Regions from separate parts of the Homo sapiens genome. Here region 2 is linked to region 1. A link means that fine-mapping ties the variant in region 1 to the expression of a gene that starts in the linked region. Tissue or cell type: whole blood. Region 1 holds a variant in brackets; the other region holds the start of a gene. All regions are shown on one strand. Distances are between the middles of the regions.

The links. PIP is the estimated chance that this variant, and not a neighbour inherited with it, causes the effect.
Region 2: it holds the start of IQGAP2, and the variant in region 1 is fine-mapped to the expression of IQGAP2 in whole blood (INTERVAL, PIP above 0.99).

What each region holds. Positions count from the first base shown.
Region 1 is chr5:76,609,732-76,612,405 of GRCh38, reverse strand. It overlaps IQGAP2 (IQ motif containing GTPase activating protein 2), which reads right to left. Exons shown (of 36, transcript NM_006633.5): 13 at 1,223-1,386. Among named protein-coding and RNA genes, the nearest start is that of F2RL2, 12 kb to the left of the region's middle. The variant A/G (reference allele first, on the strand shown) is at 1,380.
Region 2 is chr5:76,402,084-76,404,889 of GRCh38, reverse strand. It overlaps IQGAP2 (IQ motif containing GTPase activating protein 2), which reads right to left and starts at 1,605. Exons shown (of 36, transcript NM_006633.5): 1 at 1,299-1,605. The coding sequence starts at 1,344. RefSeq lists silencers at 1,294-1,403, 1,574-1,923 and an enhancer at 1,140-1,640.

The DNA of each region.
Region 1 (2,674 bases):
TTGTCCCTCAACCTCCCAAGTAGCTGGGATTATAGGTGTGAGCCACCACACCTGGCTAATTTTTTATTTTTTATTTTTATCTTTTAGCAGAGATGGGGTTTCACCATGTTTGCCAGGCTGGTCTCGAACTCCTGGCCTCAAGTGATCCACCTGCCTTGGCCTCCCGAAATGCTGGGATTACAGGTGTGAGCTACTGTGCCCGGTCACATTTTAGATAGCTTTCAACAAGTTACTTAATCTTGGTTTCATTATGTGTAAGATGGCAATAATGATGGCAAAATGGTTCAGAAGGCTGTTATGAATTGTTGTGATGATTAAATGAGATGATACACATGAGTATCTAATATCATGCCTGACAAATAGTAGGTTCTCAATAAATGTTTGCATTAACCAAGGATGTTTTTCCTGTTTCGAATGAGGCAGTTCCTAGGTTCTAAAGACCTAGACAGAGGAGATGACCGCCCTTTCAGTTGGGTTTGCACCTGAAGACATGGCAGCCATAAGTAGCTAGGTCCCAGGTGGCATCACTCCCACTCTTAGGTGACAGATCATATCAGCCTCACCACTCAGCCCATTGGCCTTATCACAGAGGCCAGTCTTTGTGGGGCTCCTTATAATAGCGGTACAAGCTCTGTACTCAGAAAAAGCCACTAGTCTTCGAGAGGACAGCTTCTGCTCTACCTCCACACCAACTTCTCTTAGGATTCTAGTCCCCGACAATCTCAAACATCCGTGAATCAATCTGTGTATCTCTCATTTTGACACTTTGCACACCCTTATCTTTACTATTACTTGACTGTTCCATGTGACAATGTCCACTGCCTCAATCAGTTTCTAAGCATTTTGAAGATAAGGTCAGAGAACATTCAAATGGTATTATGTGTCCCTCTGTATCCCCATCTTCTCTACCAGAAGCTATGGACTGAAGTGTGCACATAGTATCTACTAAGGAAATAGTCAATGAATTGAACTCTGAACAAGAACTCACCTACAACTGAGTTTTTAGTCAAAGAATTAAAGCAATAAATAGCTCTGGAGCTGGTTTCCCCCCAATGTTTGTTACCAGGAAAATAACAGCTCTATTATTTCCATTCTGATTCATGGGTAATTGTTGGGACAAGAAGCTCATGAGATTTAACGTAAATGGGTCAAATCCTCCTCCTTCTCTCCCTCTGCCACCCAGCCTGTAAAATTTAAAAGAAACAGATATACTAAAACTTACTCCGAGTTTCTGTGATTTAGCATGGTATAAAACATCCTGGTAGTGCTGGGCATGGGCTGGGTCCACATCACTAATATTCGCAGTAGGTAGGAGCAAAGTTTCTAAAGTCCTCAAAGGATTCCCTTCATCAATAGCTTCATTGATGTACCCTACAGCT[A/G]CAACTCCTAGAAAATGAAGAAGTAGTTTTCCTTTTAAGTCACAGTACATTATAACTTCTTTAGTATCACCGATTGCAAAAGGCTAATTAACTAGTACAGCAAGGCTATAGGATGCAAGATGCAAGCACAAAACCAATTATGTGTCTATACGCTCATAATAAGCAATCTGAAAATAAAATTAAGAACACATTCAATTCATAAGACTGCAACTACAAATACATTATAATTATAAATAAATATTTAGACATAATTTAATGAAAGAAACATAAGACATGTACACTGAAAACTATACAACACCATGGGAAAAAACTTAAAGACAAATAAATGAAAAGAGCCAATGTTCATGAATTGGAAGATTTAGTATTGTTAAGATGGAAATACTTCTTAAATTGACCTACAGATTCAATGCAACTTCTATCAAGGTCCCAGCTGCTGGTTTTTATTTTTATTTTTTTTTTTTGAGAGATTCTTGCTCTGTCCCCCAGGCTGGAGTGCTGTGGCATGATCTTGGCTCACTGCCACCTCCGCCTCCTGTGTTCAAGTGATTCTTGTGCCTCAGCCTCCTGAGTAGCTCTCTACATTCTGACCAACACTTGTTATTGTCTTTTTCATTACAGCCATCCTAGTGGGTGTGAAGTGGTATCATACTGTGGTTTGGATTTGTATTTTTCTAGTGACTAATGATTTTGAGCATCTTTTCATGTGTTTATTTTCCCTTTGTACATCATCTTTAAAGAAATGAAGTGTCTATTCAAGTCCCAGCTACTTGGGAGGCTGAGGTAGGAGAATCACTTGAATCCAGGAGGCAGAGGTTGCAGTGAGCCAAGATTGCACCACTGCACTCTAGCCTGGGTGACAGAGTAAGACTCTGTTCCCCCCACCAAAAAAAAAAAAAAAAAAAAAAAAAAAAATATATATATATATATATATATATATATATATATATATAGAGAGAGAGAGAGAGAGAGAGAGAGAAAGAGAGAACAAGACTGACTATAGGGTTCACAAATGAAAAGCACAGAAGTCAAACTATGAAACCTGCTTTTACAATTCTAATGAAACGGATCTATCTGGAGGTTACTTCTCAATACCTTATTATTAAAAAATAAACTATCATCCATTCATAAAAAAATGCATTTAGATAGACATGCACACACAGACACACACACACACACACACACACATATATATATAAAACACACATATACACACACTGCCAAGGAGCTTTTGCTTCCTAGGTTAGTACTGATGGATAAGAACTGTTAAAGAAACTAGATATTAATGAACAATAAGC
Region 2 (2,806 bases), 210 kb after region 1:
CACCTGAGGTTGGCACTGCAAACACTGAATGAGCACAGCGTTCCCTCTTGAACCCAAGAGGCTCTGCTGTCTGTGTGGTTTACCAAAAGGCAAAAAGCTGGGTCTCAGTCAACTGCTGAATGCATTAGAGTACAGAGGCTGTAGTCCTCAGGCCTCCCCCTCACTGCAAGGGTAACACAGGAAAGATAACCTCCCATCTTTGACACGCCAGCGGGGAGGAGGGGAAAGAACCTACACAAGTTGAGGAGCCCTTTTTCAGTTAAGCAAGTCAGTGGCCTTACGCACCATCCAAAACCACACACACACACAAACAAAACACCCTGCTGAAGGTATCACCACCTTAACCCAAACCTGGTACCTCTGCCACCAAGGCCAGCCTGGGCAAAGATTAACCTGTGGTCTTCGGCCTTGGGTTCACTGACAGGGCCACCTTGGAGAGACAGCAGGCCAACTTTCTGTTTGTTTTAAAGGAAATGCTTCCTGGCACATGTTTAGGACTCTGAACTCTGCACATGAAGCCACGTGGTTGGTGTTAATCTGGCTCCATCCACTCACGATCGGCCAAAGCAACCTATTTCCGAGGGCAGCCCCTGGCTGGGTAATCGACACCATCTCGTTCAAGTCACGCGGGCTCCCGCCGGATTCCCCGGAGCCTAGTGCCGCGTCCTCTCCACACAGCAATCCTCCCGCGCGAGGGGAGCGGGGGGGAAAGGGGTTGGGGGGTTTCAGAGGGGAGGGACTTACACCTGTGAGGCCAATGGCTCTAGCGGGTCAGGTGAAGTTCGAGGGCGCGGGACAGGAGGAGACTCCCGCCCTTCCAGTCAAGCCGGCTTTGCACTAGCAGAGTGCGCCGGCGCCCTACTTGCGGTGCCCACCTGTAGCCACAGCAAACAAACTTTCCTCCCCTTCTGGGTTGGAAGAATCCGGTGCCTTACGCCACCCCCTGGCCCAAGCCGGCGGCGACCCGGAGCTCCGCGGACTCCTCACCTGATACCCCTAAAATCCCAACCTGGTCTGTCCCAGAGCGCAATCCCCGCACTGCCCGCGCACCCCGTTTGGGTATGCGGAGTGGAGGGTCTGGGTTGCCAGCTGGATATTAGGAATTGGGGGGCGGGAGGAGCGGGGGGACGCGATTCACTGCCCTTTGCAACTCCAGCTCCCAACTTTGCCAGCCGCGCAGTTGCTGCCTTCCAATTTCCTCTGCGCCGCGCAACCGGCTCCCTCGGCTTCTCCAACGCCGTCCTCGGGGAGGGAGCTCCCCAAGGCCAGCAGGAACCCCGCGCGCCCGGCGCACTTACAGCCATAGCGGGGTCTCTGCAGCGACGGCAGCTCTTCGTGTGGCATCCTGCGCGTCTCCGGGGGCCCGCCCGGGGCGCGCCCCCCGCGGCTACCCTCGCTGGCCAGGCTCGCGGGCTCTGCGCCCCGCCGGCGCGCTCGGATCCCGCCTCTCGCCGATTTCCCCTAGCCGCCCGAAGATCTGCGACCCACTCCCTCGGTGCTCTCTCGCCAGAGCCAGCCACGGCCGCCGCGCGCTGACACTGAAGTAAAAGTGAACTCTCCTCCCTCGCTCCCTGGCCGGTCGCCGCCGCCTCCCGCAGCAGGTTTCCTTTCTCCTCCAGCCAGGCCCCGTTATTCACCGCGGTGGGAGCGCGCGCCGAGACGCAGCGACCCCTACCGCGTGTCGGGCGCAGCGCCCAGGCCGCGTGGACCCGCCCCTTCTCCCCCGGGGGAGAGGGAAGGGGCCGAGAGGGACGCTGGGCCGGGACCCCCTGCAGCTGGGGCCCCCGCACAGCTGGTGGCCTGGGGGTGGCGGCCACCCCGCCTTATTTCTCGCTTCTGGAGAGTTTCGAGGGTGGAAGTGAACCAACGCGGAGAAGTGCAAGAAAAACCGCAGAAGTCACAGGGAGCCCTTCGTGTCCGGGGTGTTGCTCAGTTACTGAGGGACAAACAGCGCGGTTCCTTTTCCTCTGGGGAGATTTCACGTTGACTTTTGTTCTTCTTCTTCGTCTTTTTGGTTTTGTTTTTTTTTGTTTTTTTTTTTTTTTTGCTTCGAAAGTTGCTTCTGTCACTTTTTGTCTACAAAATAACAGGGTTCCCCTTATGACAAGAAACTGAGTGTGTGTGTGCTGGAGGAACAAGATAACCCAAGGCAACCACTCAAAACACAACTGCGAGTCATCCCCCTCCCTCCGATCACCTTGTGCCCGCCCCCGCCCCAGTGTGCAGAGCCTTCTCTCAAGCCCAGCTGGGGTCGCAAGCCACAGAAACCTTTTCCGGCTAAGCTTTTAAGGAAATTAAACTGCATGTGGCTGTTTTGAAATCGGGGTTTTCATGCGGTCGCCAGGAGCTATTTTTCTCTTTGTGTCTCAGCGTGATAAAATCTGGAGGGAATGCGGGACGCTTCCGTACCTGTGCCCTCACCTATTTGACAATTGTGGAATGTGTGGGTGACCCGATAACAGGAAAAACAAACTGAGGGAGGGCGATAAGAAATTATTTAGAGCCGGGCGCGGCGGCTCACGCCTGTAATCCCAGCACTTTGTGAAGCCGAGGCACAAGGATCCCTTGAGCCCAAGAGTTCCAGACCAGCCTGGGCAACATAGCGAGACCCCGTCTCTCCAAAAAATGAAAAAATAATATTAGCCGTATTAGCCGGGCGTGGTGGTTGCGCCTGCAGTCCCAAGCTACTCAGGAAGCTGAGGTGGGAGGATTGCTTGAGCCCGAGAGGACAAGGCTGCTGTGGGTTGTGATTGCACCAGTGCACTCCAGCCTGGGTGAGAGTGCAAGACCCTCGGAGGCGGTGGGG